Regions from separate parts of the Homo sapiens genome. Here region 2 is linked to region 1. The links come from fine-mapping of genetic effects on gene expression. A gene starts in region 1. The other region holds a variant in brackets. All regions are shown on one strand. Distances are between the middles of the regions.

What was found. PIP is the estimated chance that this variant, and not a neighbour inherited with it, causes the effect. A credible set is the group of variants that fine-mapping cannot tell apart.
Region 2: its variant is the best candidate, but not a certain one, in a credible set for the expression of VWA2 in pancreas (GTEx, PIP 0.80).

Annotation. Positions count from the first base shown.
Region 1 is chr10:114,236,764-114,241,154 of GRCh38, reverse strand. It overlaps VWA2 (von Willebrand factor A domain containing 2), which reads right to left and starts at 1,901. Exons shown (of 14, transcript NM_001272046.2): 1 at 1,586-1,901. RefSeq lists an enhancer at 1,282-1,990.
Region 2 is chr10:114,428,879-114,433,269 of GRCh38, reverse strand. ABLIM1 (actin binding LIM protein 1) reads left to right here. Exons shown (of 23, transcript NM_002313.7): 23 at 1-2,158. Among named protein-coding and RNA genes, the nearest start is that of AFAP1L2, 27 kb to the right of the region's middle. The variant A/G (reference allele first, on the strand shown) is at 2,288.

The sequences.
Region 1 (4,391 bases):
GAGTCTGTGCATAGGCGGGGACAGGAGGTATATGGGAAACCTGTACCTTCTGCTCAATTTTGCTTTGAACCTAACACTCTAAAACTGGGTCTCAGTTTCCTCATCTGTAAAAACATGGGCTTCTGACTATGATTCGGATATCCCAGGGGCTTGTGCCTATTGAAGAGAGGGGAAATACTGGCTGTAATCTCTGTACGGTAGACCAAAAACCAGATTTAATGAAAATACACTGATGGTTTTCAGCCAGAGATGATGAGGAAAGCAATCCTCTTCTCCAACCTGGGATTTGCCTGGGGACCTAGTCTGAGAAATTCTTACACTACTAGGAGATGGCTCTGGGCTGGATTTTACAAAAGAAGAGTAAGGCCTGAGGAGCTCTGAACCCCCATCAGTCACAAGAGAGGATGGCTTCAGCCTGCTGAAAGCCAGCAGCATTTACAAATTCATGCCTGTGGCTTTTGCCAACTCTAGTGGTACCTTTCTGACCTCTTCACTTCTCTGACTCTTCAATAAATCGACATTTCTTAATATAGTGTCACCTTAACAGCAAAAGAGACCTTGAATTTTTGGGACTGAATTTATAAAACACTTAGAGGTTCTGGGGTTTTACTTAAAGCAGCTTGTAATTTGAAAAATGTACACGTTCTAATTATTCCAATCTCCAAGACATCAAACACATGGCATGAGGTCCCCATTGCTAAGTCCCCTTTCAGCTTCAGCTGGAGCCCTTGATTCCACAATCACAAGCAGCAAGGTGCCCTCCTCCCTTCTCTTCTGTCTGGTGCCCCCAGCAAGTTTTCAAGGTTCAATTCTGAGACTCTCCCATTCACCGTCCCAGCAGGTGGCCAAGGGCCCAAGGCGGGAGGGAAAGGTCGGCTTAGCTAGGGAAAGTTTTGTTAGCCTTATTGGAAGGGAAGGAGACATGCAGGAAGCAGGGCTGAGCCAGGTGGGGGAAGTCACCAGAACGACAAACCCCTGGACTTCCCACTGCCCAAGCGCGAGGACTCTCGGGGCAGCCGGCCCCTCTCAGGTTCTGCTTGCAGACACTTCGCTGGGGGCACTCGTTCTGCCTGGGAAAACTGCCCCAAGTCCCCTTAACACCTGTGTATGTCCTGTAGTGGGGTGTGGGGTGGAAGCGAGCATGTCACCAAAGCCTTTATTCAAAGGGCGAGTCCCTTTCCGCGGCCGCCAGGGAAGGGGGCCCCGCTACTGTGCCAGGAGGGCAGCTTGGGTTTAATACATGCCCTCCTCCACCCCTGTACCCGGAGCCCCTACCCACTTACCTGCTGACCGCACCCCTCCCAAAACCCCGCCAGCTCGCCCGGGACGGACCGCGAGTGGCCACGAGGGAGGCGCGCGCCAGGTGCGCTCTTCCCCCGACGCCGCCGTGCCAGGAAGGCCGCGCTCAGGTGCGCGCAGACAATGCGAACAAAGCCCGCACCCTCGGCGGGGCCGCGCAGCCCGGGTGCTCTGGGTAGGGGTGGCTGGGCAGAGGGGGCCCCAGTACCGGGAGCGTGAATCGGTCATCGGCAGCCGGCACTGGCGGGTACCCGGGCGCCAGAGCCAACTCGGGGCTGGGACTCACCGGAAGGAGAGCGGCGACCAGCGCTCGGTGCCCGGGCGGCTCTACTCACAGACCCGGGCGCGGCTCGGGCCAGGGGGCGCTACGGGATCACAGGAGGGGCGCCCGGGGCGCGGCTGCCACGTGGGACACCTGTTTGTCTCTCCTGGGAGAGGGCGGCACGACCCGACCCGGCTGAGGTCGGAGGAACTACCGCCAGGGAGGTGCATAGAGCCCCTCGCGTTTTTTAAAGCGGCATCGGCCCAGGTCTGCAAATAAAAAAGTACTTCACTTCTACGCGGGTCACCCAGCCTCCGAGCGGTGCAGCCGCGAACACTGTGCCGTCAGCTGACTCCTCCACGGGCTTTATAGCTCCTTGAAAAAATGTTGACTTTGGCATCTTTTCTATTTGTCATGGCAATTGCCTTTTAATTACCTGTCCCTCCTATTGTTGCAGTTGGGTAATAAGCCGACCTTTTGGCCATCATCCTTGCTTAAGATTGGAGGGCGTTTGATTTTTAAAAAATCAAATGCCACAAAGCACAATGCTGAGCATGATGCTTTATATAAAGTAAGCTCTCAATGAACGTTGACTATGACTGCACAATCCATAATTTCCATACTTCATTTAAAAACTGCCAGAGCATGCCTGTTCATTGCAAAAAAAAAAAAAAGAAAAGAAATAACAGTAAAAAAGTTGATAAATCAATCATTTTCCAACACCCAGAGATAATCAGTTAACATTGTGGTGTATGTTCTTCCAATGTCATTCTACCTATGCAAAAATTTATATATTTTTAGTTCATTCCATACAAGCTGTACATTACTCAGGTTTTCCATTTCCTTTTTTTGAATGTCCGTTTTAAGCCACTTCATAATGTCCTAATGTACTTAACCTATCTGCTATTGTTGAATATTAAACTTTCCATTTTAATAATACAATTAGATGTCTTTGTGCTTTTGTCCAATTAATTCCTTAGAATAAACTACGAAAAGGTAAATTTCTAGGATACAGGTTTTATACAACTTAAGACTTTTGATGCCTATTATCTAATTGTCCTCAAGGAAGGTTGACCTGCTTCCTCTTTTCCATGCTCCTTCCCATTATTCTTGTAAATGTCAATCTGATAGGAAAATAATTTGCTTTACACCTTTCCTGTCTGTAGTTCTCAGTTAATTTCCAAACCTCCGACACTGACAGCTTCCAGTGAAAGTGGCCCGTGGTGACTTTAATGTTGCAAACCTCATTGAAGGAGGCTAGGAAAGGACTCATTTTTCCTGTAATTCATTTCTCCCAGTAACATTTACTGAGCACCCAAAAATAAAAACAGGGCCACACCAGAGCAGCAGACATAATGTACCACCACATCATCCCCACAGGGGACAGCAGTTAGTCTTGAGGTCTAACTGCTGGGGAGGGATGGTCTCTGCCTCTAGATCAGCATTGCCCCAGAGAAATACTGACCAAGCCACGTGTGTAATTTTAAATGTTCTAGTGGTCACATTTAATAAAAAGTGAAAAGAAACAGCAAGCTGGATTTCAGTATTAACCTAAACATCCGGAACATTATCTCAACATGTAATCAATAAAGATGTTTTATGCTGTCTTCAAAGTCCTGTTTTTTTGTTTTTTTTTTTTTTTTTTTTGTTTGAGACAGAGTCTCACTCTGTTGCCCAGGCTGGAGTGCAATGGCATGATCTTGGCTCACTGCAACCTCTGCCTCCCAGGTTCAAATGGTTCTCCTGCCTCAGCCTCCCGAGTAGCTGGGATCACAGGTGCACACCACCATGCCCGGCTAATTTTTGTATTTTTAGTAAAGACAGGGTTTTGCCATGTTGGCCAGGCTGGTCTCAAACTCCTGACCTCAGGTAATCCACCCGCCTCAGCCTCCCAAAATGCTGGGATCATAGGCGTGAGCCACCACGCCTGGCCAATCCTGTTGTATTCTATACTCACAAGCACATCTCAATTTGGACTCGCCACATTTTTAAGTGCTGTATAGTCAAATGGGGTGAGTGGCCTGTGCTGCTCCAGAGATGTCCAACAAGGGCAGACCCCAGGTCCTCAAGAAAGTGGAAATTCTACCTTTGACAACCCTCTCCCTGTACCCCTTATGCTGTTTAACAGGTACCAGCATACTTTGACCTTATCAGGCTTACCTTGGAGAAGCCAAATTTCAATCCTGGTTGTTCCTGAAGTATTTGGCATGTCTTTAATTGGGGGCGGGGGGGGGGGAGGTATTTCACATTTTCATTCTGTGATTATGAAGAACTGAAAGCATAAATACAGTGAAGATACCTGTTGCTTCAGACTTCTTCACATCAATGTATAATCAGTCTGTCCGGGGTGTGCACTTGGGCAGGAGGGAAGGCAGGTGGTGCAGGCCCTGGTGAGTGCTGAGTGCTGAGTGGGTGACCAGCAGGGGTGGAGGCTTTTTATGCAGAAAGCTGGGTAGCTACTTTTGTCATCCATGACATCCCTTCCTTTGTGAAGATTTACAAGGATTTAAAAAATAAAGTTATTATGAATTACAATCATTCTAAGGGGCATGTAAGCTTCTTGCTTCCCAGGAGCTTGCCTTATTCATCTTTGCAGCCCAATGCCTGGTAACTTGCACACAGTAAATGCCCTCAGAAATAAAACCCCATGTCCTCCACTGACTGAAAGGACCCCCTCTTGTCCAAGGGGACCCCAGAGAAATATTTTTGAGACTGAGTCTCGCTTTACTGCCCAGGCTGGAGTGCAGTGGCTGGATCTCAGCTTACTGCAACCTCCGCCTCCCAGGTTCAAACGATTTTCATGCCTCAGCCTCCCAAGTGACTGGGATTA
Region 2 (4,391 bases), 190 kb before region 1:
ACAGCACACAAGATGGCTATTGGTCTGCTTTTACCCTACCCTGTACTATACATGAAAATTCCAGTTATTAACACACTCAAACTGGTGGAGCTTGTTCACCCTAGGAAGGGGATTGTATATATGGCAGGCTTCCCTGGTGCCGATGTAAAGGGCTACATTTGGGAACATTTGACTTCCTTGGGACTCTTAAGTGCATAATGATGGCATGAAGTAAAAGGGGCCTCAATGATGATAGGAAAATCAGTTCTTTTAAAATTTCTTCAAGAAAATCCAGGCTATCACATAGTCTTTCTGTGTGACTTATTAGGAGATAGGAAGAGCATTGGGAAACTTGCACAGCTAGCTATGCATCTACATTTTGGTTTGGGGTTAGTTATGAAATGTTCTTAATATGACGTGTTCAATAACTTCACATAAACTTCCTGTTCTCCAAAACCTCAAAGAGATAGAGTTAATGAGTTGTTGTTTTTTTTTAAATGGGGGTAGTTTTCTATCTGTCATGGGCTCTAGCATCTACTCCGCTACCCAATTCTGTCATCTCCAAGCTGAGTTTCCTCTTCTGAGGCAGAGGCTGGAGCAGTTCTTTTTCAGTTCTCATCCTCTCCATCCCAATCCAGTATATCAATCAACTCTAACTCGGAGACGTCTAGCTGGCAATGTTTCTAAAACTTTCACTGGATTTCTTTAGACATTGAAGCAAACATTTTTTTCTAAGAATTGCTTCTCAGATGATGATATCAAATGTATATGCTTTTGCAAGTTTGAAAAGTTCAAATTAACCACTTTTGACTAGGTAAGTCTTTCTAAAAACCATTTAAAGCTAACTGGGTCTTAGCATCCTCCTGTGTATGGAAGAGACAGGTGACCGCTCCAGGTTGGGTGCTCACAGAACCCTTTTCCTGACTCTCATGGAAGATGGTGGAAGGAAAATAGACTGTCTCATCAACCCTCCTGTGTCCTCTGAAGCAATCTCAGTTTTTATTAACCACCTCTTCTGTGTTTCTGGTAGCTATTTAACCTGTATTTAATCTGTACTTCCTATGCCAGCCTCAATTTTATTTGATTTTTACAATTATTCTCTTCTAACCAATGAAGTGTTTGTCAGTATGCCCCAAAGCTTGCTCTTTTGTGCTCCCTTTTGAATAACTTTCTATCCAGAAAAAGAGATTATTTGGGACTTGAGATTTGCAGTGATACCAACTTATAGCAATGATGTACTTTAAGGGAACTACCCAACTATGTTGTGATAGAAGAAAGAGAAACCTTCACTTTGGCATTTTTTTTTAATCACTGTTTATTTTTCTGTTTGCGGCCCAGGAAGCAGTGGGAGGTGGTGGCAGATATGCTTTGCATATGGATTGTTATGTTTTTATTTGGGCAAGTTTAATCATGGAAAACTCAAAAAGAAGGGGGGAAATGGTCAGTTTAAGCCAAAAGAAACTTTCTAAACAATGTATAGGTACACAGCAAAATTAAACAAATCCAACAATTTCTGAAGCTTAGTGTAATTGAGTGGTGGTTGTTATTCAATAAAATTATTCCCAAAAGTGTTTCTCCTAAGAGTGCAGTTCCCATGAGTCACTTCCTGAACCCATTGACCAAAGGTGGACAGAGACAATCCTGTAGACCTTGACATTCAGAAAGATGTGAGCTGCTTACTGATCATATATGCATACGTTTCTTTACAGCAGAGGAAACCATTGTCCACAAAACTGATGTTCTTTTGGGGTTTTATGTACAGACTTGTCCAATCATGTGTGTGGTTCCTGCGAGTTGCTGATGACTCCGCATTGAAGCTCTCTGAGTTCTTTGATTTTAAGTTGGGTTTATGGAATTTTTTCAAATGTTGGAAGGTGTGTGGTTCTTCCTGCCCTCCCTCCCCTTTTGGAAATATGAAAGCAAATGTTTAGAAGAATTCCTTTTGAAAAGCTGTGTCGTGTTCCCTGTGAAACTGAGCAGGTGTGTGTTGGCGCGCTAAGTGCCACATGCTTGTGTGTAGAGGAGGAGGTGGCCCTGCCGGCTCCGCGCTGCTGTGCCTGTGATCCCTACCTGCTCCCCGCTCCTGTTGCCAGCAGCACTCACTGCACTCCTTTGTCATATACTCTGCATCACTGTCATACTCACAACTTCGTGAATAAAGTTGTGTGCTTTATTCGTAGATGCCTCCATACCTGTGTTTCATTTCTCGTTCCCTGGCTCCCTTTGAAGGTCTATCTCATTTTAAAAAGCACCAACGCAACTTCCAATAATCAAAACAAAATCAGAATGAACCCAAGGCTGTGGGAAT[A/G]CATTTTTATCATGCAGGTGGAAAAATGCAGCAAATAACAGCAGGATATTCCAGGACTGTGTGTCCAATAACCCAGACCATATTGACCAAGCTGTCCAAAGGAAAGAAATGTTTAGTAGAGCCATTACACTGTGCTGTGTCATAGGTGTTTGATTTGGTTTGTGACACAGCAGGGATAGTCCCATCATTTCGACAAAGCTGGGGATTTGAGGAGGTTTGAAGCTTCTGAGCCACTATGAGTGTGGGCCACTTTTTAGTAAGAAGCTAGAATGCAGTAGGAGAAAAGCATCCTTCCAATTTTGGGCATCCCCTGCATGATCAAACTTTACATGAAGAAATTGTAGATGTTAACTTCCTTGTTATCATCACTGCCAAGATTTTAGGCTTGCCAGAAAGTACAAGGATCTATGTCCAAGATGGCCCACTCCAACGATAGCCTTCCTTCTGCTCTGTGTCTGCTGAGACTACCCAAGACCCAGTCACACTGGCATTCACATGACCCTCCCCTGGAAGCGGGATGCAGGTTGTTTTCAAGACAGTTGGCATCTTTAGTTCACCACCATGGAAAACAGGCCGGGAGACCTCAGCTCAAGGTCTGTGTTCTGCTCATCTCTGCCTCCACCCGTGGGAAAGCATCCCTGCTGTGGTCCATAATTACCATAGCTAGGGGTCATCTCCAGTCCTTATGAACTCTCTGTGGGATTTGGCTCTGGTGGCCACCTCTCCAATGGAAGTTGACCCGTGCCTCACTTCAGTTGCTAGACTTTAGTCAGCGAATCTCACACTGCCTTTGCTGGGAGTGGAAGGATCTCGCCTCACCCACTGCTCAGCTGCCTCTCCCCCAGTACCCTGCCTTCAGATCTTGCCAAACCACTGCAAGTTCCCAGGACATACCATGCTTGCTCCCTCCCAGGCAGCTTTATCAAAGGTATTTCTTCTTTACGATGCTCAACTCTTCAAGGAGGTGGTGGAGCAGAGAGGACCTGGCCCCAGGGAAAGGAAGTAATGATCAATGTTGACTCTTTAAAAACAGCTACCCATCAGCTCTTTGGAGTTACCCATGTGAATTTCCCATGGGCTCCATTTGTTCCAAATTAAAGACAAGTCCAAGTTCACACCCTCTCTATGAGCCTGTCTTAATGGGCCCAGCCCAATCTGCATGTAATTCTTTGCATGCCTCTAGTTGAACCTCAAGGTCGGTACTTAGCAAGTGTTGCCTCGAACTGCTAGCTGCGTGGGTTTCTGCTCTTCAGTTGAACTGTAGTGAGATCTCTGTGCTGAGCGCCAGGCACCCTAGCTTGGCATAACTATATTGCTCGTGAGAGCCTTTCAAAGTAGACAATTGTAGCTCCACTATACAGGTAGGAAACCAAAGCTCAGAGTCTAATCAAACATGCCCAATCACTCAGCCAGTGAGCAGCAGAGCTAGAATTCTCCAGGTCTGCCCTTTTCAGATCCCATGCTGTTATCCTCCACATCCCATTCCCTGTGACTTTCTTAGGGCAAGGACTGTGTCCCACATTCTGAATCTCCCAGGGCACACTGCACAGAATGGGTTCTTAGTGTGAGACCGGCCAGCGCCCTTCAGTGTGGCCATGAGCCCCAACACTACCACCAAGGCGCATTTATGAACAGTTTGGGGGTTACTCACTGTCTGTGTGTCTTGGAGCCCGTTTAGCCTCTCTTCAGCCTCAATTTGTTCATCTGCAGAATGGACAAGATAATAATATCCATCAAAAGACTGTTGCCAAATTATAGCACGTGAGCACTTAGGTGGTTGAATAAGGACTAGTATTATTTTAAATAATCATTTGAGAATGAATTAGTTTTCACTCTGGGCTTTTTACCCCTCCCTCTAGTCATTTTGTTTGTGTTCACAGGGCCTTCCTCATGGATTCTCCTTCTAGTCTTTATATAAATACTCCAGGATTAAAATAATCCCACGACCTCTTTTACATACTTCAACAACAGCACTCTCTCCACCCAAGCATAGTCTAAGATAGAGATCCCCTGAAGATGTGCTAATTAGTAGTAATAATAACCAGAAGTATTACTCAGCAGCCGAGTGCAGGGTATAGCATCAGGCTGCCTGGGTTCGAGTTTC